7 linked regions of the Homo sapiens genome follow. The protein of the gene in region 5 purifies or fractionates together with the protein of the main gene of each other region. This does not show direct contact. Each region holds a gene or a part of one and is shown on either strand. Other genes may lie near its edges.

What was found.
Region 1: the proteins of PCDHB11 (region 5) and PEAK1 purify together in Homo sapiens (affinity purification with mass spectrometry; 2 studies listed by BioGRID and IntAct, with this or other methods). This does not show direct contact.
Region 2: the proteins of PCDHB11 (region 5) and MACO1 purify together in Homo sapiens (affinity purification with mass spectrometry; 2 studies listed by BioGRID and IntAct, with this or other methods). This does not show direct contact.
Region 3: the proteins of PCDHB11 (region 5) and ST7L purify together in Homo sapiens (affinity purification with mass spectrometry; 2 studies listed by BioGRID and IntAct, with this or other methods). This does not show direct contact.
Region 4: the proteins of PCDHB11 (region 5) and ST7 purify together in Homo sapiens (affinity purification with mass spectrometry; 2 studies listed by BioGRID and IntAct, with this or other methods). This does not show direct contact.
Region 6: the proteins of PCDHB11 (region 5) and DCBLD2 purify together in Homo sapiens (affinity purification with mass spectrometry; 2 studies listed by BioGRID and IntAct, with this or other methods). This does not show direct contact.
Region 7: the proteins of PCDHB11 (region 5) and TTC17 purify together in Homo sapiens (affinity purification with mass spectrometry; 2 studies listed by BioGRID and IntAct, with this or other methods). This does not show direct contact.

What each region holds. Positions count from the first base shown.
Region 1 is NC_000015.10:77,409,681-77,414,159, reverse strand, and holds part of PEAK1 (inactive tyrosine-protein kinase PEAK1), read left to right. Parts: intron 1-4,479. UniProt on the Homo sapiens protein: Probable catalytically inactive kinase. Scaffolding protein that regulates the cytoskeleton to control cell spreading and migration by modulating focal adhesion dynamics. Acts as a scaffold for mediating EGFR signaling.
Region 2 is NC_000001.11:25,433,636-25,438,114, forward strand, and holds part of MACO1 (macoilin), read left to right. Parts: intron 1-4,479. UniProt on the Homo sapiens protein: Plays a role in the regulation of neuronal activity.
Region 3 is NC_000001.11:112,581,142-112,585,620, reverse strand, and holds part of ST7L (suppressor of tumorigenicity 7 protein-like), read left to right. Parts: intron 1-1,494; coding exon 1,495-1,649; intron 1,650-3,148; coding exon 3,149-3,246; intron 3,247-3,514; coding exon 3,515-3,629; intron 3,630-4,479.
Region 4 is NC_000007.14:117,214,522-117,219,000, forward strand, and holds part of ST7 (suppressor of tumorigenicity 7 protein), read left to right. Parts: intron 1-4,479. UniProt on the Homo sapiens protein: May act as a tumor suppressor.
Region 5 is NC_000005.10:141,198,000-141,203,050, forward strand, and holds the start of PCDHB11 (protocadherin beta-11 precursor), read left to right. Parts: upstream 1-1,627; 5' UTR 1,628-1,775; coding exon 1,776-4,169; 3' UTR 4,170-5,051. UniProt on the Homo sapiens protein: Potential calcium-dependent cell-adhesion protein. May be involved in the establishment and maintenance of specific neuronal connections in the brain.
Region 6 is NC_000003.12:98,794,962-98,798,568, reverse strand, and holds the end of DCBLD2 (discoidin, CUB and LCCL domain-containing protein 2 precursor), read left to right. Parts: 3' UTR 1-2,628; downstream 2,629-3,607.
Region 7 is NC_000011.10:43,364,757-43,369,235, forward strand, and holds part of TTC17 (tetratricopeptide repeat protein 17 isoform 1 precursor), read left to right. Parts: intron 1-4,479. UniProt on the Homo sapiens protein: Plays a role in primary ciliogenesis by modulating actin polymerization.

The sequences.
Region 1 (4,479 bases), on a different chromosome or scaffold from region 5:
AAGGAAGGAAGGAAAGAAAGAAAAGAAAGAAAATGCAGGCTGGGTGTGGTGGCTTATTCCTGTAATCCCAGTACTATGGGAGGCTGAAGTGGGAAGATCGTCTGAGCCCAGGAGTTTAAGACCAGCCTAGGCGACATAGGGAGGCCTCATCTCTAAAAACTATAATAAATTAGCCGGGTGTGGTGGCATGTGCCTGTGGGCCTAGCTACTTAGGAGGCTGAGGTCAGAGGATCACTTGAGCCTGGATGGTAGAGGCTGTAGTGAGCCATGATTGCACCACTGCACCCCAGTCTGGGCAACAGAGTAAGACCCTGTCTCAAAGAAACAAACAGAAAAACTGCTGCTATATACTCTTCACCTGGGTTCCTCTAATGTTAACATCCTACATAACCATGGTGCATTTATCAAGCTAAGAAATTAGTATTGGTACGATGCTTCAACCAAGCTTCAAACTGCTTTAATATTTTACCAGTTTTTCTAGTATTCTTTTTCCATTCTGTTATCCAAACCTTGATATTGCATTGCTTTAGTTGTCTTCTTTGTCTCTCCCAATGTGTGGCAGTTTCTTGGTCTTTTCTTATCTTTTATAACCTTGACACAAGTATTTTGTAGAATGTTCTTCAGTTTAGGTTTGTCTGATGTTTTCTCATGATTAGATTGGGGTTATGGATTTTGGGGGAGAGTACTGCAAAGGTGAAGTGCCCCTATTATTTCATACAGGAGGTGCATGATATCAAATAATTTATCACTTGTGAGCACTCTGTTACGGTGGTTTCTGCTAGGTTTGTCCACTGTAAAGTTACTATTTTTCCTTTCCCATAGTCCGTGCACTAGAAACAGGTTGCTAAGTGTAGCCCACACTTAAAGGGATGGAAATTAAACTCCACTTCCTGGAGGGAGAAGTATAAAAGAATTTGTGGACATATATTAAAACCACCACAGTAATTGGTAAATATTTTGAGAGAGCTACTTTGAGGCTTTGCCAGTATCCTGTTTCTGCCCACTAATTTTAGCATTCATTAGTGGATCTTGCCTGCAGCAATTATTGCTGTGGCTTCTGAAGGTACTTTTTTAAATTTTCCTCATTCTTTCTACATTTATTAATTAGAATTCTTCTATAAGGAAGGTTTTCCCTTCTATCTAATCATTTATCTCAGTTCAAATTCATAGATATTTATTTTATTCTTAGTGTTAGAATTAAATGCTATCATTATTTTGTTGCTCAAATTATTCCAGTTTTGGCCCTTGGGATCTCTTTTAGGTCTACTTCTGTGTCTTTTTGGCATATTTCTATCCTTTTTTTATGCGTATGTACATGCACACTTCTTTATTCTCTGACACTACCACATGCTTCAGGTTCATCTTGTTTTTTTTTCCTACCTCAGCCCTAGAATCAATTATTTCTCTAAGGAACCTTGGTTCCTTTCATTGGAGGATGATATTTTGAAGCCAAGATCTGGATGCTAAGTGTGCTCATTGCTGTGGAGTATCATTGCTCCTAGACTTTCTCAGTGGAAAGAACTAGGAAATGCATGTATGTATACTAATCCACGTATCCATGTACAATTATGTAAAAATCTGTATTTCTGTATATAAAAATATAAATATACTGATTGTCTGTGACTCTAACTGGATATGTTTTGATACAGATAGATTTACTGATGGATTGGTTGTAGAATGTGAAAAGAAAAGAGTAATGGATCACTCCAAGGTTTTTGACTTGAGCAACTGGAAGGATAGAGTTGTCATTAATAGAAATGAGGAAGACTTGAGGACGGTGCAGAGCAGGTTTTTGGGGAGAGTTTAGGAGTTCTGTTCTAGACTGGTTAAGTTTTTGAGATGTCTAATAGACATGCTAAGTAATAGAGATATTAAGTCAGCAGTTGAACATGGGAATCTAGAGTTCAGAGAAGAATGGTCCAGGTTACATTTGGGACTTGTCAGTATAGATTAGATCACCTGAGGAGTGAGGGTAGCTAGAGAAGAGAAGAAATTTAAGGACTGGCCCATGGGGCATTCCAGTCAGAGAGATAAGGAGGAGCAGTTCCACATAATGATAAGGGCTGAGGTGTGGTTATAGGGTGGATTTCATATCATTAATAAACACTTAATACCTATTATTTGCAAGATACCAAGTTATGTTTGGGGTTAACATCACTCCCTCCATAAATTTATAAGACAAATTACAGACTTAAAAAGAGAATAGCAGTAGAAGGCCACATACCTGATAAAGATATAAAGTACTAGGGGCTGGGTGTGGTGGCTCATGCCTGTAATCTCAGCTCTTTTGGAGGATGAGGCGGGAGGATCACTTGAGGCCAGGAATTTGAGACCAGCCTGGGTAGTGAGACCCACCCCCAACCCCCATCTTTACAAAAAGTAAAAAAGTATTAGCTGGGTGTGCTGGCCCATGCCTGTTTTAGCTACTTAAGTGGCTGAGGCAGGAGGATTACTTGAGTCCAGAAGTTCAAGGCTGCAGTGAGCTATGATCGCACCACTGCTCTCTAGCCTAGGTGACATCGCAAGACTGTATTTAAAAAAAAAGGTATGAAGTACTAATGAAGCTTATTAGAGAATGTGGACATGAGAAACTATGAACTCAAATATGTGTCAGCTATATTTAAACACCGATGTAAGCATGTGTGCGTCAAGAAACTTGTCAAGGCTTTATGTACACACTAGTAATTATCAACCAGTAGAAGTTTCTCCATATGTTAACATTAGTTTCGGAGGTTGTTTCTGTTCTTACTTCCTTTCCATTATTAGGTCTTGGGTTGTTAATTGTGCCTGTAGTCATTGGCTATCAATTAAGCCACTCAGTGAACTGATGAGGAGTGTTTCTGCTGCCCTCGACTTTTTAATTTTTGGCTCTCTGCTACCTTTTCACAATCAATAGGATTTAACTTCAGACTGCATACAATCAAATGTTTCCATTTACAAGCAGGGTTGTAAATCAAGCAGGGTTGGCCTTACCATCTGCCGTGAATTTGCCCCACCTTTTTTTTTTTTTAACTATTTCTTTCACATGTGGTCTTAGACATTCACATTTATCATCTGGTTATTAAAGTCAAACCCAAAATAACAATTTTAGAATTTTAAAAATAATTACAACATGTAGCCTGGTAAACCAAAGTTTTAGTAAAACATTTTAATTTCAACCCCTTTGCATTAAAAATAGGTAGGCTTTCATTGCCAGCTGATAAGAGGTGGTAGTATGGCATGAGGCAGGCAAATAGCACCTATCTAGTAATTATTTAAGTGTCAGTCACTCTTCAGGAACTACAAGAAAAATAACAGGTGTATCTACTTTGTAGGATAGGGGGCAGGTAATTGCAGGATTCCATTCTTATTTCTACCTCCGAATAGTCGACAAAGCTATTATCCAGGTTTATGGACCAGTGTGTTGTATTTATTAGTTGTGAGAAATCTGAGCATATTTATATGCTGAGTGGAAAGAGCCAATGCATTGAGTGCAAAGACTGTATCTTATTAGCACAGTTCCTAACAAGTAGTGGATATTCAAATATTTGTTGAATGAAAGATTTCAATAAGGTACTTTACCCTTATAAAATTTAAGACATGAAGATTTATTTAGCTTGTTCAAGAAAGCTGAAGATATTAAAAATTTTCATTGTTTAAGTCAGAGTTAGTGTAAAACAAAATAAATCTGTAAGGTAACATCCTCATTTTAGGCCAAGCCAAACAAATCATACCACTTTGTAAAAACATGATCACAGACGGGTGCGATGGCTCACACCTGTAATCCCAGCATTTTGGGAGGCCAAGGCAGGCAGATCACCTGAGGTCGAGAGTTCGAGACCAGCCTGACCCACATGGAGAAAGCCCATCTGTACTAAAAATACAAAATTAGCTGGGCGTGGTGGCGCATGCCTGTAATCCCGGGAGGCTGAGGTAGGAGAATCACTTGGGAGGCTGAGGAGCTACTCAGGAGGCTGAGGCAGGAGAATAACTTGAACCTGGGAGGCAGAGGTTCCAGTGAGCCGAGATCATGGTGAGCCAAGATCGTGCCATTGCACTCCAGCCTGGGCAAAAAGAGCGAAACTCTGTCTAAAAAAAAAAAAAACACACACACACACCAAAAAACAAAACAAAACAAAAAAACCACGATTACTGTCTTTCAAGTAGCTCATAACCTGCCCTCCAAGAATAGTCAAGAATTCTAGTTCAGAAGTCACACTGCCTGGATTTGAATTTACCAGCTCAGCCACTTCCTGGCCATGTGACTTTATGTTAGTTTCTTAACTGTGCTTCAGTTTCCTCATTTGTAAAATAAGGATAATACTTGTACTTACTTTATGGGGTTGTGAGGTGAAATTAGAATATATGTCATGCATATATACAAGTGTTCAGTTTTTAACTGTTATTCTAAAAATGCTAAGAGGCTAGTATCTTAAGGTTTTTTATTTTCTCAAAATTGCATATGCTGAGTGTTAAAGGAAAACAAATCCCTCTGTGAAC
Region 2 (4,479 bases), on a different chromosome or scaffold from region 5:
GGCAGCTGTGGTGAAAAGCGCACTGGACTGCAGGAATCAGGAGACCCAGGATCAGACTCAAAATCCCAGCTCTGCTGCTTTAGGCAGACAGGGCATCCACAGCTTTGAGCCCCAGTTCTCCCACCTTCAAATGAGTTTTGAGGACTAAAGGAGATATGTACAGTTTGTGAAATGCTTTATAAATCCTAGTGTAGTTTACAGATACTATTTACCATGTTGTTGCTATCACAGTTTAACGTGTGGTTAATTTTTTAAGGAGGCAGGAAATACTGTAAGATTTGGTGCAACTGTAAACAAAAGTTGAGTAGCCAAAACAAAGGGTCAGTTGCTGTTTGGTCTTGCTTTAAAAAATCCTGTTGTGGACTCACTTTTAAATCATGGGCTGCAGTCCAACAACTGTTACTGAGGTGACTGTCAAATGATATCATTTATTGTGAGTATCATGGCTGTCTTGGAATTCTGTTTCGGGGTGAGATGCAAGGAAAATTAATTTTAGACATTATGTTAATGTAATCTGCATTTATACATATAAAACATCATTTGAAAAGTGAAACATGCTATAGAAATATTTTAGTCCAGTTAATAATTAAAAATAGGAGAAAGGAAATAGGAATAGTGATCTTTTCATCTTACTAGGGGCTAAAGTTCGATGTAGTTTTAAAAAAATCTGACCCAGCCCAGAGCCTGACAGAGTCGACATTCAGTGTTCAATAAATGTTGAGTGAGTAAATTAATAAATGAATATAAGCTAGTCCATTTCATTCATGAAGTGCCTACGTTGTTCAGGGAATTGCGGAGGATACAGGATAACACATGGCTCATTGTCTTCAAGGAGTTTACAGTCTAGTAGGCCGTAGTAATACCATCTTAAATTTGTACAGTGGTTTAGAGTTTCCAAAGAACTTTAAGTTCTGTTCAAGTAAAAATATTTCTGTTGTGCTAAATTTTAGCTTACTGTTTTAGTGGTTCATCTGACACATTAACAGCTGTATTTTGCTCTGTGCTATTTTATGATAAAGTAGACAGTTGCCACTATATGAGGGAGTCTTTTCTATCTCAAATGAGATAGATATGAAAGTACTTTAAAAATTATGAACATAAGTTATTAAGTACCTAACTCTTATATTTCTAAGGTCCTTTGGTTTTCTGGGCTGGGTTCTCTCCTTGTGTCTGCCTAGACACATGTGCACCAGACACTCCCGATAGTAATATCTCATTGCAGGCAGTGATTTTCCAGGTGAGGTGAGGTTAGGGTACTATGTAGTTTTTAAAAGCCTTAAGGGGATTCTGTATGGTTTACCCCTACCTCTCACCCTGCCATACTTTCCACTCCCTTCCCTCAGAGAATTACTGACTTTATAATATAAAAATGAGGAGATAAGATGTGGTAAGTAGAAGAAGGAGGCAGAAACATTTATGTTTAAAGTATACATATATTCCAAATCGCTACAGTTAAATGGTTATTTATGCAAGTAAATATAATACGAATTTTAAGTAAGGTATATGTTTTAAGCTTCTGGGAATGATTTTATATCTGTGTTACTGGTGGCTGAAGGAAGTACCCTTTCACTGTGTATTTAAGACTGCTTCCTGTCTTCATGTACTGGATTCTGCTTGTAGTGCTGTGTGAAGCTTAGGCAGTGCAGTATTGTACCTGACTGTCATATTTTTGCAGCTTAATGCCTTAAAACTAGGACTAAGAACTCAGCACTGGTGTATATGTTATTATTTCCCATTTTTATTTCAGAGAAAAATTCTCTGGTCCTTGGGGCTCCTCAAAAGTGACTTTTTAAAGTGATTAAATTTTGCATTCTTCTCAACTTCCCAATTTCCTTTTTCAGACCCTTGTCTACATCTGATCTCCAGAGGTTTCATTTGACTGCTTTTTCTGCCTCCTTAATGATGTTTTCTAAGCCTAGTTTTAGACTCCTTTGGGCTATGCTTATTAAAGTCACTGCAGGCTGTCATGACCCTTGGCTGCCTTGATTGTACATGTGTTCTGCAACTGAAACCCCAGATACCTGTGTTGCAATCTCATAGCCTAAAAGCATTTTGGTAATCTTGGTAGGCTTTAACTTTAACAATCCTGGACCTGGCACGAAAGTGATAGATTCTGTATTGTTTTAGAGGAGTGTTGGGGAAGGAGAAATTGAAATGTTTTCACTAACCTGTGCAGTGAAGTGTTTATTAGCTAAACTCTTCTATTTGTGGTTTTCACAAAATACACTTTAAAAATCGGCCACACTGGGATGAAAAAGCACTTTCCTCCAACTTTCATTATGATTCTTCCTGTCTGAGCAGTCTTGGCAGTTTAGTTTCATTAGGTGTTTTGAAAATCCCTTTAAATTGCTGCTGGGTTGAGGAGGGGAACAGGAGAGAACGTGATTCACTTCACATTATTTGCTTAAAAGCTTCCTGTTTTATCATTGATAGTCTCCTTTTTCTTCACATCGATTCCTCATGGCCTCTCTTGAACCTCACTAGATTTAGAGATTGATCTTAATGGTAGGTTTAACAAATAATTATTTACATTTTCTTACTAGTTATATGCTTGTATATATCTCATGGACCCAGTCCATGTTCTGTAAGCATTTATGTTCCTAGAATCTTTTTCTTTGGCCATTTCTCCCAGATCTCCCCACTGATACTGTTAACCCTTTGGGGTTTTATGTATATAAAGTGCACTTTGTTTTATCTGTTTCTAGGCTACCATCTTGTGGAGTTTGGAGGGCAAGTAGAAATTTCACAAACATAGTTAAGTGAAATACTGTAATTAGGTTACTTTTCTTCATAAAATTTAGTGTGCTCTTCAGATATACTGATTAGTTTATCCCCAGGCTTACTAGATTTGGGCATAATTATTTTACTTGGCTCTTGCTCAAGAATTAAGTCCAGAAGAAAAAGAAGTTGGCTGTCCAGCAAGCTGCATAAGTAGGATGGTACATACAACAGTAGATACACATATCCTTGTTAGACTTTTTCCACTGTGGATTTCTTCAGATGCTTAAGTAGTGACTTTTCAAAGCCTCTCACCTTGCATCCTGGCAATGGAAGCTTGAAAAAAGTTAATCAACTTTTAGAGAATATTGAGGCTCTGTATCTTTAATTTGACATTTAACCGACATCAAATTGTCTCAGCTGATGAGCCTTCCAAGGCACTTGTCTTCCCTGGCCTTTGAAGACAGTCATAGTACTGACCTTGATTGCTTTATATTTTTTTCTCTGCTGCCTTTAAGGATGATATGCCCACTTTGAGTCATGGGATTGTGGCACCAAAAATAATGTATCCCTCACCCCATCTCCTCTGTTGCCTTCTCTTTTTCAGAGCTTTTGCATTTAGTGATTAAAATGGTGTGACTACTCCACTTTCATATATCTGTTCATATCACTGATGAGTTTGAGCTGTTTAGGACCGATCTCCCACTCAGCACAGAGGAGTGGCTAGAAATAATCTCATTCTGTTTTTGAATCATATTGTTACGTTGTTCATCTTCAAAACACTTTTTTTTTTTTTTTTGAGACAGGGTCTCATTCTGTCGCCCAGGCTGGAGTCCAGCAGCGAGATCACAGCTCACTGTATCCTTCATCTCCTGGGTTCAAGAGATCCTTACACTTCAGCTGACCGAGTAGCTGGGACCAAAGGCATATACTACCATGCCTGGCTTTTTTTTTTTTTTTTTTTTTTTGCGTTTTTGCGTTTTTATAAAGATGGAGTCTCGCCGTGTTGTATAGGCTGGTCTTGAACTCCTGGGCTCAAGTGAGCCACTCACCTTGACCTCTCAAAGTACTGGGATTATAGGCATGAGCCACCGCACCCACCCAACACTTTTAAAAACCAAATAAATAGCTGAGTACTAAAATCAGTACTTTGCCTATCTTGTAGCAAGAATAGTTGAACATTAAAGAGAATGAATACTATGTTCATGTCCAAAGTAAGGATTCCTGTCTCAGAAAAGAGAGATACTGTCTGAGGCTTGAGTCGTCTTGCTCAGATGTAATAAGAATTTTTGGCCGGGTGTGATGGCTGTAACCCCAGCACTTTGGGAGGCTAAGGCAAGAGGATTGCTTGAGTCCAGGAGTTCAAGACTAGCCTAGGTAACATAGCGAGACCTCATCTCTACTAAAATTCAAAAAAATTAGCTGGGTGTGGTGTCACATTCCTGTAGTCCCAGCTACTTGGGAGGCTGAGGCGGGAGGATCACGTGAGCCCAGGAGTTTGAGGCTGCAGTGTGCCATGATCGTGTCACTACACTCCAGCCTGGGCAATAGAGCAAGACCCTGTGTCAAAAAAAGAGAATTGGCTGGGCGTGGTGGTTAATATAATCCCAAAGTGCTGATATTATAGGCGTGAGCCACCATAATCAGCCCCCAATTTAAAGGAAAAAAAAAATCTAGAATGGAAATCGCTAAAAAAGGTTTTCACGGTTTTGTAGTATAACATTTTTATAAAGGTCTGTATAGACCACAGAGATATCAAGG
Region 3 (4,479 bases), on a different chromosome or scaffold from region 5:
GCTAGGACTACAGGCACCCGCCACTGCGCCCAGCTAATTTTTTGTATTTTTTTTAGTAGAGACAGGGTTTCACCGTGGTCTCGATCTCCTGACCTCGTGATCCGCCCGCCTCGGCCTCCCAAAGTGCTGGGATTACAGGCATGAGCCACCGCGCCCGGCCCAAAATATTAAACTATTTTAACATATAGTCAGTACTTTTCTAAAATCTGTTAATGAAGAACTTTACATTCTTCTAAGTCTTCAAAATTCGTTGTGCATTTTTACACTTGCATCACATCTCAATTCAGACGCATCACATTTCAAGTGCTCAATAACCACATGTGGCTAATGCCTAGAATACTGGACAGTGCCGTCTTAGATAATCACAACTAGGATATTGTCTGTAGAAGAGATGGATTTGTTATTTCTGGGAATGGAATAACAACATTTTGTTTCTCTTTGTGGCCCCAAAACAAGCATTAGTTTATTAGCCAGGTGTTGACTTAAAAGATACAAAGAAAAGCCTCTGTGTTTTAGTGGGGTGAAGAAAAGAAAACTTGGCATAAGCATAGTTTTGAGGAATGAGAATAGGAGTGTAGGAGGAAGGACCTGAATTCAGAACAAGGGAAGTTATACTGCATAATATTGTGGATAAGTCCATGTGTGGATGGGACAGCATGCAGAGGGGAGTACTCAGATTTGGGGAAAATGTCTAGTCCTGGACTATGTTTCTGAGTCAGATGTTAAAAGTGCCTAGTTGGCCAAGGGACTATCTTCCCAATCTTCACCCTCCCCATACCTGCCCCATGAAATGGATGTCATAAATTATATAGCGACTAAAAGCAGGTATGATCAACCGGGCATGGTGGCTCACGCCTGTAATCCCAGCACTTTGGAAAGCTGAGGCAGGTGGATCACCTGAGATCAGGAGTTCTAGACCAGCCTAGCCAACATGTTGAAACCCCATCTCTACTAAAAATACAAAAATTAGCCGGGCGTGGTGCTGCATGCCTGTAATCCCAGCTACTCGGGAGGCTGAGGCAGGAGAATTGCTTGAACCCAGGAGGCCCAGGTTTCAGTGAGCCAAGATTGGGCCATTGCACTCCAGCCTGGGTGACAAAAGCAAAATTCCATCTCAAAAAAAAAAGCAGGTATGACCAGTAGAGGGTATACAATTCAGATAATTCTTTATAAATCTTCTTTTCTCCCCCCTTTCACAAAAAGAAAACACAGGACAATGGGTCAGAGAATGAGATAGAAGTTTAAAAATTTTGTTTTTTTTTTTTAAAAAACAAAGAGAAGGGAAAGATAAGAAAGTGGAAGAATTGTGGAATCAGACATAAAGAATATACCAATGTGCCCCTATTAAGGTAAAATATTGAACGAAGGTTTTTTTTTTTCTAAAGATGGAAAAAGTGTAGGTAAGGAAATATGACATAGAGCAAAGGGACATAACCAAGAGAAAACACTTGCTTTACCATTTTATTTAAAATTGCCTTCTTGCTTTCTTCATAGCTGTGCCACTGCATATGTTCTACTGGCTGAGGAAGAAGCAACAACTATTGTAGATGCTGAAAGGTTATTTAAACAGGCACTCAAGGCAGGAGAAACAATTTATAGGCAGTCACAGCAGTGCCAGCACCAAAGTCCTCAGCATGAAGCTCAACTGAGTAAGCAAGTTTGAACTGGTTATTACTGTCTTTTAGCATCTGTAATTTGCTTGTGTCTTAACACAAACAACAATAATAAAAAACTTAATACTTACAGGTTAGTTAATTTTCACTGGAAATAACTAATCTATTCACAATACCTACAAGCCAGCAAGACAGAAATGTGTATTAGCCAGAGAATGCTTGTGGAAGGGAATAGATCTGCTCAGGTTATTGAGAGAAGATGTGCTGCTCTGAGACTTAACAGTAATTTATTTCATGTGAGAATTGGGCTGGTCATTGTAAAAACATAACTCAAAAACTTTCAGCATTCAGGAGAGCCTTCTAGTGATGATAAGCAGCTGTTATCTTTATCCTCACCCTTACTCTAAGCAACAGTAGAGGTACATTATTTGGTTGGTTCTTCAGACTGTGTATCTGCATATAGTGCTAGGGAGTGGCCCCTTTCACACCATCTGATTCTTAGCCCAAAATCCAACCTCATACTTGGCATTGATTCTTTCTTTGGTTGATTTTTCTCCATGATGTGCTTGAGATCAGATGAGCCATAGCAACAGAAGTCCTTTCTGTTCTTAGATATGCTCTACCAGTTATGATTGAGATTTTTTTTTACCAAAGATGTTAGAATCAGCAATGATGCTGCTTCCTGCTATTTTTATGGCCAGAGGGTTTTAGTTTCATGATTTTGGCAAATAGTGGGTAATAAATTGAAATATGTTTATATAATGCATTATCTACTGGCAGCTAAGTTCTAAATCTTTTTTTATGTGTAAATTAAAATTTGGATAATGTTTTTCTCCCTAAGCTAAATACAGATATATATGGTATGTTTCATTAATGCACAGTTTTTATAACACAAATCTGTGGGAATATATAATTTTGTAGCCTGGAACTAATGAAACTACATCTTTAAAAATGTCATGCCATTTGTCTTTGAATAATCTCAAATACGGTTATGAGCTAGTTACAGAAATATTTGTTAGCTCTTTCTAGAAGTAGTTTTATAGTTTGTCAACTACTCACTGTTAAGAAAAGTTTACATTAGCCATGGAAATTTTGTTTTGGACATTTTTTGTTTTTCATTTAAAACAATAGAGAGTATCAGAATAGTAGATCATTTATGCACAAACTTAAATACTAGGTTAATGTTATATCTTACTATAATGTATGTATTTCTTTTTTGCTAATGGTAAAATAAACTTGTCAATCATACACGAATTATATATACTGTACTTAAGTTACTATTAGAGGCAAAAATAATTAAATGTGTATTTTAAGTTTTAATACAGAAAACTTGAAACATGCGCAAAAATAGAGAACACTCCTGTTCAATATTTATCATCCAAATGTAGACATCATTAATATTCTTCCATTCTGACACAATTTAATTTTAATTGACTCTTCCAAGGGAAGCAAATAAAATTAATGGATATGTTAATGAAATAGCAGCCCACAATACAAAAGTGATAGTTGTATCATTTTTTTGTTTTTCTAAATAGGGAGAGATACCAATGTACTGGTATATATTAAAAGAAGATTGGCAATGTGTGCAAGAAAATTAGGAAGAATAAGAGAAGCAGTAAAAATAATGAGAGATGTAAGTAAATTGATGATGGGACTATTACATTTATTCCTCCAGAAACTAAAAATTTAGTTAAGTTGCCAGTTATTTTAATGCAGAATCATTGTATTTTAATTGGTAGTTTTTAGAACAAGGTATTTATTTAATATACGTACCTTTCTTAAGGGTTAGGTCTTCTTCACAGCTATGGTAAGAAACAAGAATTTCTACTTAATGAATCTGGCTCAGCTCTATTGAGTTCCTTTGTTATGATTTTAATCTTTCTTTTCCTTTTAATATACAGTTGATGAAAGAATTTCCTCCTCTTACCATGTTGAACATCCATGAAAATCTCTTAGAATCACTTTTAGAATTACAGGCCTATCCAGATGTTCAGGCAGTCCTAGCAAAATATGATGGTGAGTCATATTCCCTTAGTTGATAGCATGGTTATTCTTTTCCAATTATGTAATTATAAATGTGGTTATATTCTAGTATTTAATTTTCTCTTTCTGTTCTTACCAGTCAGTATTTAGCACTCAGAGGTTGCTATTTAGTATCTTCTTTATCAGGACTTTCATTAGCAAAAGTCTGCAAGGAAGAACTTTTCTTCTGTCAAGATTTACTTGTTTGTTTATTGAGTGCTTGTTTCTAATATGAGTGAGTCATTCAGAATATGACAGTGAACAAGACAACATGGGAGGCTGGGCATGGTGGCTCACACCTGTAATCCCAGCATTTTGTTTTGGAGACTGAGGTGGGAGGATCACTTGAGCCCAGGAGTTGGAGACCAGCATGGGCAACATGGCAAGACCCTGTCTCTACAAAAAAATTTTTTAAAAAAATTAGCTGGGTTTGGTGGTGTGTACCTGTAGTCCCAGCTACTTGGGAGGCTAAGGTGGGAGGATCACTTGAACCTGGGAGGTTCAGGCTGTAGTGAGCTGTGACTGCACCACTGTAGTCCAGCCTAGGCGACAGAGGGAGACCCTGTCTCAAAAAAAAAAAAAAAAAAGACGGGGAGCCCTCATAGGATTTACAGTTTATTTACAGTTTAGTGGAGCATACAGACAAATGAGCAGCAGTTACATTGAAGACAGCATGTTTGGGAGATAATTGGAGAAGTATGGGTGCTGTGCACATAGTAGGGGTACCTTATTTGTTTTGGAGTGTCAAGCAAGCCTAACAGAGAAGTTGCTTAGCAGTATATACTATAAGAGCAATTCAGAATAACATTTTTACAATGCTTTTTAGTTACAAAGTTCAATGATA
Region 4 (4,479 bases), on a different chromosome or scaffold from region 5:
CACCTTTTGAACTACCAAAGAGAAATTCCACCACCCTCCCCCATAGATCTAAGGCTAAATTCTGTAATTTCGGAGAAAGCAATGATAGGCTAAAGTCGCTGGTCATAGCTAACTTACCCTAATAGCCAGACTCCAGATATCATATGATGGTTCCCCACCTACTGCCCAGTAGAACCAACTTGCTCCTTTCCTTTATTCCGTCTCGGTGAATGGCTATCATATGGGTCCACCTGAGTTTTTAAAAAGGAATATTCTGTCTCTTCTTGATTGTGCGTTTATTCATTCATTACTTTATTCAACAAATATTTATTGAGTCCATCCTTTGTGCCAGGCATTGGGTTGAGGAGATCAAGATGAATAAGAATCTGAAATGCTTTGGGAAGAACATTTGTGTGTGTGTGTGTGTGTGTGTGTGTGTGTGTGTGTGTGTGTGTACAGTGTATATAAGCAAAAAATACACACACACACACCTCACATCAGATAGATAGATAGTAATGCTTGTATCCACACTATCTGTCATGACAGTAGGAACTGAGTATTAGAGTGGTGAGGGTCACTAAGAAGTTAGTGAGTCTGCTGTAAGACCCTAGAATTTCAGAGTAGAACATCATTTAATCCAACTAAGGGAAAGTGTTTTTCCCAAGGCCACACAATTAGGTAGTGACAGCATGTGGATCACAACCCAGCCTTTTGACTTTTGAATTTTCTTTATTGCTGCACCCAAATGCCTCACTAAAAACAGATGGCCTTCGTGGCTGGTTAGCTACATTGAACTTAAAAATAAGGACATGAAATTTGCGATTTGGTGATAATTTCCTGTTCTATCACTTGCATTTCTAATTATTAACAAACAAGCAGAATTTTTACTTATAAACTAGAGTATGACCTGACAGAGAAAGTAGGAACTTTAGGTTTAATAGAGAGGGATATGGGGGAAAGAGAAACCCAACCTTTACTGAGCAGCCAGGCACTATATGTGGATGCCTTGACCTCTGCTGTTACACTTAGTTCCTTTACCAGCCTTTTGAGGCCTGTGGTATTCTCATTTTACAGATGAAGAGACAGGGACACAGATTAACGACCCACGCAAAGTCATACGCTAGTGAGCCTAGGCAGGTCCTGCTCATCCTTTAGATGCCACTTTGGCCGCTTCTCCATTATGTACACACAGCACCATGACTCCCTTGGAGGTATTCATCACCGTGGGAACCTTTGCTCTTACTTTCATGATTGGATCCTGCTTCTGGCACTTGGTGGTGAGCTCCATGAGGGCAGGGGCAGTGTGTGCTGGGCTCACCTTTGTGTGCTTGTCACATAAGAAGCCACTCACCTTTTGTCAAGCAACTGATTATAAGAAGTAGAGCTGGGATTCAAACTCGGTTCCCTCTGTTACAAATAATCTGTATAAAATTATCTAAGATACTCTAAGATTGATTACATTCTATCCTTGCCTATCTAGTAGGTAGAGTAAGAAGAGGTCATTAGAAGTCATTGGGAAAATCAGGAATTAACTTGTTCATGTATCCATCCTTTTGTCATTTCTTTGGTTCTGTTTATTTTTCCCCCCAGTATCAATTGAGAATCTCTGACGGGAACAGCACTGATAGACTTGGAACCTAGAAAATGTGTCTGGTCAGGGATAGAAGAAGACAGCATTGTGCCACAGACTTGATTGTGAAGGCATGATCTGTTCTTTCACTAATTCTCAGTTTCATTTTGACCCTTCAGCAAATTCACAACCAAAATCAAGGTAGGGGAAGGGATGGCACACAGAGGAAAGTGCAGAAATATCATTTATATACCATGTATTCACTCTGAGTGGCCTAACTTTTTTGTTTTGTTTTTAACCCAATACATGTGTATTTTTAATTCCTCTGAAATTTGTGTTTTCTTAAGGATTTTTAGGTCTGTATTCATTCATAAAATAGATCTGTTCAAATGACCTTTTTCTATTCTTATTAGCACCACCAAATCAGTGTGTTTTTAATACTTAGATTCGCAAAATTTCTGGACATTTGGCAAAAGGCACAAGGCTGTCATGGAGCAGTTGCATGTCTTAGCAGTGAAAGGGACCAGGAGGTGGGAGGTGACGCTGGCAAGGCTTGTGCAGTGCCTCTACCGGCCTCTCTCTGGACCTCCCCTGCTTATCTCACACTTGACTGGGCCCTGCACTGCAGGGTGGGTAAAGGATAGAATTGCAAGCAGAAATTGTATTTGCTTTTGTTTAGTGAAGCCAAAAGCCTTAATATTATTTTTTGAGCTCAATGCAAATGGCAACTGACATGAGAGAGATTTTAAGAGCACCATAAGCATCTTTATAATCATGGGGGTGGAGGGCAATCCGGGAAGAGGGTGTGGGTGGGTGGGTGGCTGTGTGTACACATGCACTCTTTTTAAAGTTGTATTGTGTCTCTAACCTCTCCAAAAAAGACCAGAACCAATTAGAAAAAGGAAAAGGCCAACTTGACGCACAAAATTCTATATGCATGCCAAATATTGGAGTGAAAAACATGTAGCATTTGACTGAAAAGACACCAACCAACCATTAGATTTCTATGGTTGAACACTCTCAAGATCTTGCACTCCTGTATTTCATTTAAAAAATTACTCCCTGAAGTGCAAACTGACTTCAATTTTGAATAAAATTTAGCATTCAAATTTATAGCCACTTTGAAAACTGAGGGTTTATTTATATCATATGAACTTGAACAGATACTTAATTACAGCAACCCAGCAGCCCTTTGCACATGGAGAATCTGGATTTGGGAAAAAAAAAAACAAAAAAAAAAACTTCCCACGTAGGTTTTTCCACATTTTTCAGATGCTTTTGTAGCAGCCATCATTTATGGGAAATGGCATTAAAATCCTGCCGTAATGTAGTTTAAGTTTAAATTCAGTGCTTCCCAGAAGAGATTTTAGTGTATCCTATAAAGGCACTAAAAGGCTTATTTTTGTTTTTGTTTGTTTTTGTGGGGGGTGTTTTGTTCTCTTGAAAGTCTGGTTCTAATGAGAGAGATGTTGGTTCCTTGGAATGATCTTTGTGTGTTAACAACCTGTGCAAAGAACTCCTCTCTTGCTTGTTCTAGCGGGCAAAAGTCATCTTTGTTTGCGTGCAAGAAAAGGTCTGATTGAACTAGGGTGAGCCTTTCATTTTAAGCAGAGTTAAAGTCTGGGGTGTTTTTAATGTTTTAATCTCTGTTTAAGAGGTTTCTGTTATGAGAGGAAAATTGATAACATTTTTACCTCAGCAAACTGCCAGCAAACTGGCTCTGCTCTAATCCCACATTTATAGTGATTTATATTCTCCGTGGCAATGTGCTGTAACCTCAGAGTGATACCACTGCGGTGTAGATTGACTGCATTCCAAATGCTGGAATCACATACATAATGTTTTTACTTTTAAATAATATTCAGACACCAGAATAAATACCATATGTGCACTGATGCTGGTTACAATGGAACCTTGTCATTTCTTGTGAGGGAGAACATTCTTTGTTTCTGATTCCTGTTTGAAATAAGTATGCAAAAGATAAATATGTACATTGACAGCATTTTGAGAAGGCTCTGGTAGTTACACAGCTGAGGATGTAGCTATGATTCCTTGAAATGTATCATTTAAAACTAAAAATATTGCTGCATGTTGCCCCCATCCCTCACTACCATACATGAAGGCAAGGATTGTTATCTGACATTCCCAGAGTAGGGTAGAGCTTTTATATTTTATATCTACAGCAGGCTGTAGTAAGAGGACATCTGTTGAAGAAAAATTACCTCCGTGAGTACTGTTCATAGGAACAGTGAGACTAACATGCTGATGACATTGTAACAGGGAGAGTAACACACTTGATCATGGGAAAGGATGGATTGATTGGAAAGCCGTAATTCAGTGTGAGCCCTAATGTCATCTGATGCTACAAAAGCAGAATTTAGGTGGCCTAACATCATCAAAATACAGATAATTAATCTCTCCAGATCAATTTTCCCACATGATAAAAGTTAAGATTTAAACTTTTAATAAAGTTTAGAAACACCTCCCGAGTTATACATTTTTAGATTTTTGTTTTTATTCATCTTGATTGGAATTCAAATCCACTTAAACAGTATTTTTTAAATCAATTTGGTAGAATACCTTTCATATTTGTACATCTATACAAACTCCAACAAGTCGATCCACATTTGCTTCTTGGGGAAGCATTTTAATCCACGTTTGCATGATTACTATTTGTTTAGCTATATTGAATTAGTGCCCATAACATTTTAATAATATTTAGTAGATGATGAAACCCTGGGCATTGATACTGATGGCTTCCCAACCCCTCTGCACCTCTGTCCCCACCCAGTTTTGTGAGGTTTGCTCAGAATATATAGTGTGAGATGAATGTGTGAGTAATCCATCACAATTTATCTCTGACATTTCATCTGGCACATAGCTTGGTGGGGTAAGCCTTGCCTCCTTTGTAGAAGTGTTCCCTGTTATAA
Region 5 (5,051 bases):
TCTCTGTATGATGGTGAAAAGACCAGAGAATTCAACTATCCTACATACATACTTTCAACTAATAACTTCTTTTTTAAGCCCTTACTTGACTTCAGCCTTCTTATACACCTGGTTCCTCCAAGTCTGGTACCTACTAGGATTGTGTAGGGAAAACCCAGTAGTTTATTTTTAGTATCTCCAATGAAGGAACTTTATTTTAGACATTTCTTGGAACTATTGTCAATTGCTCTTTCATCTGCTTTCTATCATCAAATAATTTGTGTATTTACTTATGTATTCTTAGTCTTTGTGAATTCATACCTTTTATTACTTTTCTGTCATTTTAGAGAGGGGTTAAGAAGAAGGAAGGATAATTGTATAGTCAATCCACATACTATTCAATTTCTACTCTTCTGCACTGATAATTTTTCAACCATGTATCTAGTTCACATTTTTGTGAATGTAATTTGAAATTAGAATTTTTAAAAGCAGACTTCTTAGATGTCCTCCATTATTGAGAGTACTTTGAGATGTCTAACAGTGGATACCATTGGTAGTTTCCAAGCACCTATTCCAACTATCTCCCTCATTATGCCATGCACTTTGGCTAGGACTGAAACCACCTCAAGTTTAAGGGGCAATCTCTGCCTGGATTAAAACAAAGGGTCAAAGATGGAGTCTTTAGATTCTGGGACTATAATCTCTACCTTTAATCCTATACATCTTGAGACACTGATTTCTTCAGTAACAGGCTGAAGTGCTCTCAGTTGGTCTAATCAGAATGAAGGCTAAGATTTTGTTCTATTATTGAGGAAGAAAATATCTCTCATTCTGTCTTCTTGAGCTGAAAAACAAAGCAGATAGCCATAGATGTTGCTGGAATAAATCTTGGGAAACTGAGGGAGGGCAGTCTTAGAAATAAGCCTGCTTTAAATGAAACTAACATGCTTGTGCTTGTGTATTTATTATTTTTTGAGAAGCTGGAACTAAATCAAGGATTCTCATAATGTGTTCTACTCCCAATATCTTACTTTACTTTCTAGCAGTTCACAATTCCTTGCTACCAAGGAAATCTATATAAATGCCTTCTTGTGCTATCATAACTATCAAAGTATGTCCCATCTCATGGTTAATCCAGTTTCATATCCTCTGAGAGGACTTCTAAAATGACCCATGTATAGTTTGCCTTTTCATTACCACCTAAGGAAAGTCAAGTAGTGATAGAATTTTGTACAGCTTAAAAATATTATGGTTGTTTTATGTTTCCAGTCTTCTCAGAAAGATTACAAACCACTGGGAGCCAGGAATCACATCTTGTATTTCTGTATTCACCACAACTAAGCACGTTTGGTTGTATGGAGAAGGGGGAAAGATAAATGCTTTAAGATGAATATTAACAGCATATCAAACTAAAGAGAATATGAAATAATTATTACAGAACGTGCAATATATTTGTAATCACTTGAACACAATGAATAAAACAATATTTGTTTCCGGAGGACATATAAGTGAATGGAATTTAGGTAGCTTTCACCAAACTGTGAAAATCTATGGAGACACTTGGTGGCGCTGCAGGATAACATCGTGAAAAATATATTCACTGGATGGCGTTGTGAACACTGATATCCAGTGCACACAGAGAATCAGAAGACAGAAACAACAAGCCTTCAAGAGGGTGACCTGGAAACCATTCAACAGGGTTAAAATCCTTAGACCACAGAGGATTTGGTGGACAAGTCAGAGACGCGTTCCGCAGAGCTGAAGCCTTTCTTCAAGAAGCCTACAAGAAAGGAACTATGGAGAACCAAGGGACACGCACTCAGCAGATAAGGCAAGTCCTGCTTCTCTTTGTTTTGCTCGGAATGTCTCAGGCGGGCTCTGAAACCTGGAGCTTTTCTGTGGCAGAAGAAATGCAGAGCGGGAGTTTTGTAGGCAATCTGGCAAAGGACCTGGGGCTGAAGGTGAGAGAACTGTCCTCACGGGGGGCTCGGGTGGTCTCTAATGATAAGAAACAGCGTTTGCAGCTGGACATAAACACTGGGGATTTGCTCTTAAGTGAAACACTAGACAGGGAGGAGCTCTGCGGTTCCATCGAGCCTTGCGTGCTACATTTGCAGGTGTTAATGCAAAACCCCACGCAGTTTTTACAAATTGAGCTTCAGGTCAGGGATATAAATGATCACTCTCCCATCTTCTCGGAAAAACAAATGCTCCTAGAAATCCCAGAGAACAGTCCCGTTGGTGCTGTGTTCTTACTAGAAAGTGCGAAGGATTTAGATGTAGGAATCAATGCTGTAAAAAGCTACACAATAAGCCCCAACTCTCATTTTCACATTAAAATGAGAGTCATTCCAGACAATAGGAAATACCCCGAGTTAGTTCTGGACAAGGCGCTGGATTATGAAGAGCTCCCGGAGCTCAGTTTCATCCTCTCTGCTCTGGATGGTGGGTCCCCTCCCAGGTCTGGAACTGCCTTGGTCAGGGTGGTGGTTGTGGACATTAATGACAACTCCCCTGAATTTGAGCAGGCTTTTTATGAGGTGAAGATTCGGGAGAATAGCATCCTTGGCTCGCTGATTTTGATTGTCTCAGCTTGGGATTTAGACTCTGGAACAAATGGTGAAATATGCTATACCTTTTCCCATGCCTCAGAAGATATTCGCAAGACATTTGAAATTAATCAAAAGTCTGGAGAAATTACTTTAAGAGCACCTCTGGATTTTGAAACGATTGAGTCATACTCAATAATCATTCAAGCCACAGATGGGGGAGGACTTTTTGGAAAATCTACAGTCATAATTCACGTGATAGATGTAAATGACAATGCTCCTGAAATCACTGTGTCATCAATTACCAGTCCAATCCCAGAAAATACGCCAGAGACCGTGGTTATGGTTTTTAGTATCCAAGATATAGACTCTGGGGACAACGGAAGAATTGTTTGTTCCATTCCGGAAGACCTCCCATTCGTGCTAAAATCTTCAGTTGAGAATTACTACACGTTGGAAACAGAGAGACCACTGGACAGAGAGAGCACAGCCGAGTACAATATCACCATCACCGTCACCGACTTGGGGATACCCAGGCTGAAAACCGAGCACAACACAACTGTGTTGGTCTCTGACGTCAATGACAACGCCCCCACCTTCACCCAAACCTCCTACACCCTGTTCGTCCGCGAGAACAACAGCCCCGCCCTGCACATCGGCAGTGTCAGCGCTACAGACAGAGACTCAGGCACCAACGCCCAGGTCAACTACTCGCTACTCCCGCCCCAGGACCTGCACCTGCCCCTCGCCTCCCTGGTCTCCATCAACACAGACAACGGCCACCTGTTCGCCCTCAGGTCGCTGGACTACGAGGCCCTGCAGGCTTTCGACTTCCGCGTGGGCGCCACAGACCGCGGCTCCCCGGCTTTGAGCAGCGAGGCGCTGGTGCGCGTGCTGGTGCTGGACGCCAACGACAACTCGCCCTTCGTGCTGTACCCGCTGCAGAACGGCTCCGCGCCCTGCACCGAGCTGGTGCCCCGGGCGGCCGAGCCGGGCTACCTGGTGACCAAGGTGGTGGCGGTGGACGGCGACTCGGGCCAGAACGCCTGGCTGTCGTACCAGCTGCTCAAGGCCACGGAGCCCGGGCTATTCGGCGTGTGGGCGCACAATGGCGAGGTGCGCACCGCCAGGCTGCTGAGCGAGCGCGACGCGGCCAAGCACAGGCTGGTGGTGCTGGTCAAGGACAATGGCGAGCCTCCGCGCTCGGCCACCGCCACGCTGCAAGTGCTCCTGGTGGACGGCTTCTCCCAGCCCTACCTGCCGCTCCCTGAGGCGGCACCGGCCCAGGCCCAGGCCGACTCGCTCACCGTCTACTTGGTGGTGGCGTTGGCCTCGGTGTCTTCGCTCTTCCTCTTCTCGGTGCTCCTGTTCGTGGCGGTGCGGCTGTGCAGGAGGAGCAGGGCGGCCTCGGTGGGAAGCTGCTCGGTGCCTAAGGGCCCCTTTCCAGGGCATCTGGTGGACGTGAGCGGCACCGGGACCCTTTCCCAGAGCTACCAGTACGAGGTGTGTCTGACGGGAGGTTCCGAGACAAATGAATTCAAGTTCCTAAAACCGGTTATCCCTAATATCCAGGCAAAAGGTCTTGGGAAGAATAGTGAAGAAAACTCCACCTTTCGAAATAGCTTTGGATTTAATTTTTAGTAAGAATGCTATTTACATTTGCATGTACTTTTTTAGTTTTATGTAACCATATCAATATTATTTAGTCTTAAACTAGTTACGTTATTATGCAATACGACTAATTGTATTTTTAATTTTTTCTTTTCTCCCCCAATTTTTTTTTTTTTTTTGAGACCGAGTCTCATTCTGTCGCCCTGGCTGGAGTGCAATGGTGTGATCTCAGCTCACTGCACCCTCCGCCTCTCGGGTTCAAGCAATTCTCCTGCATCAGCCTCCCGAGTAGCTGGCATTACAGGCGCCCACCACCACGCTCGGCTAAATTTTTTTTTTTTTTATCTTTAGTAGAGACGGGGTTTCACCACGTTGGCCGGGCAGGTTTTAAACTCTTGACCTCATGTTCCACCCGCCACGGCCTCCCAAAGTGCTGTGATTACCGGTGTGAGCCACTGCGCCCGGCCTTTTTTTTTTCTTTTCTTTTCTTTTTTTTGATACAGAGTCTTAGTCACCCAGACTAGAGGTCAGTGGCAGGATCTCAGCTCACTGCAACCTCTGCCTCCTGGGCTCAAGAGACCAGCCCACCTCCGCCTCCAAGTAGCTGGGACTACAGGCGTGCGCCACCATGCCCGGCTACTTCTTGTATTTTTTGTAGAGACGGATCGTCACCATATTTCTTAGGCTGGCCTTTAACTTCTGAGCTCAAGAGATGCACTCCCCTCAGCCTCCCAAAGTGCTGGGATTACAGGCGGCCAGGCCTATTTTCAATTTTCAAGTATTGCATATCATTGTGAATAACATTGTAAATCCTTTTTATATTAAGTAACAGGTAGTTAATCCATTTCTAATGAATAATTTTAAGGTTTTAATCCTTTCCAAGTGTACAATAATTTACTGATTATTATTTCT
Region 6 (3,607 bases), on a different chromosome or scaffold from region 5:
ACTTTATGATTTGAAAGCTTTAAAGGAGATTCTTCTCCCACCCCCAACTTTATTTGCAATGGGATTTTTCCTAGGAGAGTTATGAAAAGTTGAAGGCTTCTAAGGGAATACTGTAAACATGACCCACTTATATTTATCACAGTGAAAGGCAAAATTATTCACTCAGAAGTAATATAAATTACCTCTTTAAAAAGTAACCAGAATTTGTCCTTTTTGGTTTTATACATTCACAAACATATACATTTTTCTTGAGTCTCAAGGTATTTTATATTTTTAGTCAGAAAAAATAATTTTTCATTTCAGTTTTCCATAAACTGTTACACAAAATATAAACCTAACGTGTATTTTTCAGGACTGCGTGATCGTGCACTTTGTGTGGTAAGAGGTTTGAGTAGTCCTATATGTCACCTAGGGAACAGACATTATAGCTTACTAGCAAATGAATATTCATGCCTTGTTTTTGATACCTCCTGGCAGCTTCCATGTCACCACTTGTTCATACCTGCCCAGAGCTAGTTTTAGACATGGCAAAATAGAAATCATCTGTAATTTATTAGCTAACAATGTAAAACCATCTTTTAAAGCCTTCAGACTGTCAAGACGACATGAGCAGCTCACCATATGATAAAAATACATAAATTTGACATTCCCTCTTCCATAAACCTTTGTTTGTAGATTTAATGTTGAACAGTACTTTTCCATAAAGTTCTAGTCACTTCTGTTGGCCTGAGCCACCAGATTATGATGTTGCCAGAATTCACTCAATTTGAATAAAGATGAACAGTATTTGTTTTCTTGTTTCCATGAATTATATCAGTATTCTAAAACATCGCTTCAGAAAGAGAACTGTTTATTTCTGCAGGCTTCCTGTCCTTTTGTGGTATGGTTTTTTGGCCTTATTTTCACTGGCTTTTCCTTCTCCAAACTTTGAGGCGTGATTTCATTCATTGAAGAATCAATACATATTTTGTTTCAAAATGTTTGAAACAAAAGACATAGATGGTAGACTTTTATTAAAACATATATGGATGTGGAAAGCACATATATTAATGCAGTCATCCCTTTTCAGGTGGGAAGAGAGCAAACCAGTTGATTTTTTAATTCATCCTTAGTACACAGAGAATATACTTTTCCTCAAGTAATATACCTGTTTGAAGCTTTAAGAGAGATGTTTTTGGTAACTATTTCATTTTCCCAAAGAAGTTTGCTATTCTTGTGTTAATTGTGTATACCTGATTGTTTTTTCCTGGAGGTTTTTGTTGTTGTTGTTTAGTTTTGGGTTTTTTTTTTTTTAAGAGGGGCAAGTGTTTTCTGAAATGATGCATATTTTAAGACTCGATTCATATTGCCACTGTGCTATCCTTGAACTACCAATAATTTTTATAAAATATCTAGTTTTTACTACTTTTATATAAACTTTACTTTCCAGATGAAGAGCTGAGCCTGATTCAAATGGTTTTTCTGCTTTATACTTCTTTTTAGTTCATTGGTTTTTATAGTAGAGGTTTTCTATTTTTTTTTTTTTTTTTTTTACTACATTTATATGTCTGATACATATACGGCTTTGGAGACAATCAAGTAACAACTGAAAATGTGAAAGTAACCATATCTGACAAAATTCCCTTGAATTTTTATCCTTTGCTTGCAACATTTAAGACTCAAAGTCACTGGTATATTGGATTAAGTTTTTTCCTGTTAATGCAATTATAGAAATACATCGGAGACACAACAAATGTGGCCATTACAGGTTTCATAAAATTACACTGACTTGGCTGTTACTTGATCTTAGGAAACAGCACAGTTTAAGATATTGTGAATTCTGACTTATACTTTATTAAATGCTGTAAATCTAAATAGATCCTGTTGGATGTGATGGGTCTAGTCCAGTTTATTTAAGTTCATGTTTCACTGTTTGCACTTTGCATTGAACAATGGGTTTATTCGCTGATGTAAACGGTTCGAGTGAAGAATTAATGCAGTAAGTATGACAACACATACACACTTGCCTCTCCCCATCTCCAGAAGAGGGGAGCAGAGTCCGAGCTTATCTAAATATGAATGTGGCCACAAAGCTGTGGAAGGTGACAAAGCTTAAACACCTTTGCCCTGGCTCTGCATTGTCACCTAGAGAGCAAGAGGTCTATAGAAACATCATGTCACATGAAACGATTCTCTGCTTTTTGGTTCTGAACTTGAAGTCCCTAAACTGCAAAATCTAAGAGTTGGGTGGTTATTAAAATGCTTTTAAAGTCAACTGTGGCACCAATTCTAATGTAATCCAACTTGTGACTGTTTTTTTTTGTTTTGTTTTGTTTTTGTGTGTGTGTGTGTGGCACTGGGAAAAGTGGAAACAAACATGTATTGAAATACATATTGGAAATAAAAATGGTTTGAGCGTCAGTGATATTCTCCCAGAATGTACTTATCTTACCTCGGCATGTACTGTAGTCACTCAGTATTTGTATATGTTGCTAGAATTTAGATTGTAAAATAGTGAAATTTTAATGTGTTCATTTGTTTTTAATGTATATATGTCTTGCTCAGATTATTTGGTTTAAATAAAACAACCTTGAGGTTTGTAGCTTTTCCTTATACTATAAAATGCCAGATTCTTCTATTTTAACCTCACTAATTTATGGCCAATATTGTGCTTCCAGCAACATTTGAAAATGACACTGTTAGTTTACTTTGACTTTTTCTATGACCAGCGCCATCCTTTTTTTAAAAAAATAATTTCAACTTTTATTTTAGATTCTAAGGGTACATGTGCAGAGTGCAGGTTGTTACATGGGTATATTGTGTGATACTGAGGTTTGTGGTATGAATGATCCCATCATCCAGGTTGTGAGCATAGTACCCAATACATAGTCTTTCAGCCCTTGCCCTCCCCGCTCCCCTCGCTCCCCCCGCCGCAGTCCTCAGTGTCTATCGTTCCCATCTTTATGTCCTTGTGTACCCACAGCACCATTCTTTTTGAAGCCTGATTTACTTTATATCAATTGAACTTCAGCAGCCACACTGCAGCCTATGGCTGTGTGGTATGAGGGGAAAATCACACTGATTGATTACATGTGATTCCAGTTCTGGTACCTTCCTTTTGCACCTCAAAAAGTTATAAGAGGAATCAAAACTGTGGGACTCTGCAAACATATGCTGGTATTCATGTCTAATCTGGGTTAGATCAACTACTACTGTTCTCCCCTTTATTCTGCTTTATAAGTACCGCATTCTGTTTCTGAGCCAAATCTAATGTATTTCACCCTTTATACACCCTCTTTAGAGAGGCAGGTTGGTTGTCAGTAATCAAGCCATGGTTTTCCAGTGTTTCCCAATTGTATTTATTGGTCAAAAGAGAGTAATTCTTTCTTCAGCTCATACCTCTTCTGACAACTTTTAGTTCCATCCTTATAACCTCTATTTTTCTGTTTCTTCACCTCTCATTCCCCTACCTCCAGATGGCCTTTGGTTACATTTATTAAAATATAGGAAGGAAGACTAGCTCACCACATTTGTAGGATTGACTGGCTTGCATTGGATCAGATTCTCTGGTGCACCCTAGGTAGCCAGGCAAGCTTTCCATCTGAAGATTAGCTTTAATCATGGGAAA
Region 7 (4,479 bases), on a different chromosome or scaffold from region 5:
AATTAGAACTTTAAATAATTTTCCCACTTTTTCAATTTTTTAAATTTTTATTTATTTATTTATTTTGAGACAGAGTTTCGCTCTTGTTGCCCAGGCTGGAGTACAGTGGCGTGATCTCGGCTCACCTCAACCTCCACCTCCTGGATTCAAGCGGTTTTCCTGCCTCAGCCTCCTGAGTAGCTGGGATTATAGGCATGTACCACCACGCCCGGCTAATTTTGTATTTTTAGTAGAGACAGGGTTTCTCCTGGTCAGGCTGGTCTCAAACTCCTGACCTCAGGTGATCTGCCTGCCTCGGCCTCCCAAAGTGCTGGGATTACAGGCGTGAACCCACCACGCCCGGCCATAATGTTTTTTATTTTTTAAAGACAGGTCACTCTGTCACCCAGGCTAGAGTGCAGTGGCACCGTCATAGCTCACCGTGACCTTGAACTCCTAGGCTCAAGTGATCTTCCCACCACAACCTCCCTAGTACCTGGAACTACAAGTGCATACCACCACACCTGGTTAGTTTTTTTTTATTTTTTGTAGAGATAGGGTTGTACCATGTTGCTCAGGCTGGAATTCAGTGGCATGATTATGGCTCATTGTAAACTTGAACTCTTGGGCTCAAGTGATCCTCCCGCCTCAGCCTCCCATGTAGCTGGGACTACAGGCAAGTGCCACCACACCCAGCTAATTTTTGTATTTTTTGTAGAGACGGGGTTTTGCCATGTCACCCAGGCTGATCTTGATCTCCTGAGCTGAAGCAATCACCTGCCTTGGCCTCCCAAAGTGCTGGGATTACAGGCATGAGCCGCCATGCCTGGCCAGCTCATCTCCTTCTTAACTTTGTTGTTTTTGTTTTTGTTTCTTTGCCCTTGCTCTTTTTCATACTCACCCTTTAGATAAGTAGTTCTCAAACTTTACCTTGTACAAAAATAATTGGGGAATTGGGAGTTGCTTGCTTAAAATGCAGATTTCCAAGACACCCAGAGTATCTGATTCAGTAGGTTGGTGGTAAAGCGAAGGATTCTACATTTTTATCAAACTCCTTGGGAGAGTATAATGCAGGTAGACCACACATAGTCTAAGAAATTCAGTTTTAGATATTGCCATCCTTCCAGCTTCTGTTCCAGTTTTTTTAAACTCTGTACATACACCTGAGCATCAGTTACCATATGTATGCTGAGAGTATCTGCATTCCTTTTGTAACTTAGTTTTTTTCTCCAGAGTTGTAGATTTAAGACCTTTTTTTTTTTTTGAGATGGAGTCTTGCTCTGTCGCCAGGCTGTAGTGCAGTGGCGCAATCTCGGCTCACTACAACCTCCGCCTCCCAGGTTCAAGCAATTTTTCTGCCTCAGCCTCCCGAGTAGCTGGGACTAGTTCACGTCAGAAATCTAGTTGTCTTTAATTCCTTAGTCTCCCTTAGCCATCACCAAGATCTTTGTTTTACTAATTATATTTTACTTCTTCCCATAGCTACTATCATTACTCTAATTCAGGCCACCTTATTATTGCCGCAGCTTCCTGTTCTTCTCCTTTGTTTTATTTAATTAAAAATTTTGAAACCATCCTGGGCAACATGGTAAAACCCCATCTCTACTAAAATACCAAAAAATTAGCCGGGCATGGTGGTGCGCACCTGTAATCAAAGCTACTCGGGAGGCTGAGGTGGGAGAATCGCTTGAGCCCGGGAGGTGGAGGTTGTAGTGACCCAAGATAGTGCCACTGTACTCCAGCTTGCGTGACAGAGTGAGACTCTGCCTCAAAAAAAAAAAAAAAATTGAATTCAGAAATAATGCATGGCATTGTAAAAATAAACATCCACCATGCCAGCATGGGAATATTTAATAAAGTGAAATCCCTCCACCTCTATGCACTCTCACTCCCCAGGGAAAGCTACCTTTAATAGTTTGGTGCATATCCCAGGATATGGTCCAAACTCTTTCTATTGACAAGGTTTTGGTGGCAGGGAGGGAGACAGATTCTCGAACATATCTTATGTGACCTGGCCCTTCCTCTCTAGCCTTATCTCGGGTCATCCTTGAGTACCCCACCCTAACCCTAGAGTAACACACACAGCCATACTGACTTAGCTTTTGTGAGCATCCCCAAATATGCCGTGTTCTCACTTCTTCTGGGCCTTTGCATATGTTGTTCTTCCCCCAACACTCGAGTCTAGCTGAGTCATACTCGTCATAATATAAACATCATTTTCTCAGTGAAGCTTCTGGTATGCCCAAATTTGAATAAGCTGTTCTATGTGCTTCCATAGCATCCTGAATTCCTTTATGAAAGGATCTACCATACTGTGTTGGGCCTACCTACTTAGGTAAATGCCACACTAGACATTTCTCAATGAATCCTTATAGTATTCAGTAATATTTTAGTCATCTGGGGACTAAGCCTAAAAGAAGCCTCAGACTTCCATGTCTTTAAAGCTTTGAGTCACGCATTATTGAATCAGCCCGTAGGCCCTCAGAAAAGGTGCACAGTAGATGAGAAGAGCCATAATTTCAGAGATCATTCCTGCTTACCTACTGTAGTCATGTTGTGTTATGCAAGGGAAATCATCCTCGCTGTCTTTGTACCAGTTTAGATATCTAAAAGGTCAACTTTAATGCGCAGGCATCAAAAAGCAAAAAGTATGGGGCAACAAGAGACAATGAAAAAGATAAGCAGAAGAAAATAATCAGAAAAAACAGAGGCGTGGTAGATGAGAAATGGCAGCTGCACTGTTGAGGAGGGATTAGAACCAGCTGTGGGGTTCAGCAGTTGTTGCAGTTTAGAAGTCACTCTGGTGAAAGTAAACAGAAGGCGCTCTGATAGTGAAGAATAAATAAGAGGGCTCACGAGCTGCTCACGTCAAAAATTAGAACAACTTTGCATTCCAAAATGTTAAGGAGCAGGGTGTAAGCTAAAACCTGCGTCTCAGCTGTACTCCTTGATAGCAGAAGTGAAAACAAGGGGAATGTCTGTGTGTGTGTGTGTGTGTGTGTGTGTGTGTGTCTCTTTTACAGACAGACACCCTAAAAGAGTTATCTGTGCTCGTGGAGTCTCCTCTCTCTTCCTTTTTTAAGCCCCCTCCAATTCATCCTTCATCCCTATAACTCTTGTCAAGATACCCAGAGCCTATGCTCAGTTCTCACTAATCTTAAGTTCTTAGCAGCCCAGCATTTGTCTTCATATCTTACTCAGCTATTTTCTTACATGCTTACCTAAAAGAGTGGCTGACACATAGTATACACTGAGGAAACACTGAGTAAGGGAGAGAGAATGTGTGCAACTAAGCAACTTTTTACACCTGTAATAGCTCTTACATGCATTAGCATACAGAAGAGCCAACACGTATTCCTGGTTTTTCTTCTCAGTCCCTGGCCCTGACTTCTCATTTTCTTCTGCTGAATTCACCTTTTCTTGATGAGTCTTAGGTGTTGGTGTGCCCCTTTTCTTCCCTCTGTACATATGTTCACCAGATGATCTTTTGCAGTCTCGGGGCATAAAGTACCATTTATATTCTAAAGACTCTCAAATCTTACGTGCAGTTTCAACTTCTTCCTGAACTTCAGACTCATATATCCAACTGCCTACTGAACATCACCATTTAGTTGTCATCACAAATACATCATGTCCTAAACTAAACTCTTGATTTTCTACCCCACCACACCTGATCTTCCCCCATTCACAAAATTGCCCAGGTCCAAAATTTTGGTATCTTCTTGACTCTTTCTCATATCTCAAACCCAACGTAGTAATAACTTGTCAGCCCTACTTCCAGAATGTTTCCTGAATCCAGCCATGTCTTTCCACCTCCATTTCTGTAATTCCAGTCAATACTGTCTTCATCTCTTTGCAGAACCTATGCAGTGGCTTCCTACCTGGTCTCCTTGCTTCTACTTTTGTCCCCTAGATCTGTTATCTCCAGAGCAGCCAAAGTAATCTCTTAAAAAGCACAGCTGGTCATGTCACTCCCTTTGGGATAGGAGGGAAACAAAGAACATCAGAAAATCTTCAGTAGTTTCCCATCATACTTAGATTAAAATCTGGAGTTTTCCTTATGGCCTACAAGGTCCTGTAAGATCTAGAACCTGGCACCTGTCTTCTCCTCCAGCCTCAGACACCACTTTCTTTCTTGTGTGGTGTGGTGTGCTCTGCCTCAGCCATACCAGCCCTCGGGATGTTCTTCAAACCACCAAGCTTGATTCTGCCTTTGGACCTTTGTCCTTGCTTCTTCCTCTGCAGATGGCATCACGGCTCAGCCTCTCTCTCCTTTCAGGTCTCTTTTCACATGTCATCTCTTGTTCTAACTAGTTTTATCTAAAACAGCGTCTATTTGAGCCTTGACTATTGTGTCTTGATCCAGCTTTTCACTTACCTTCCTTTTAGAGTTGCAAATGTTCTACTTTATTAATTATGTTATTTGTATATGCCCTGGTGACATGAATTAGAAAATGTGGACTGGTAGCACTATTATAGGAAGTTACTCATTTGTGGTTC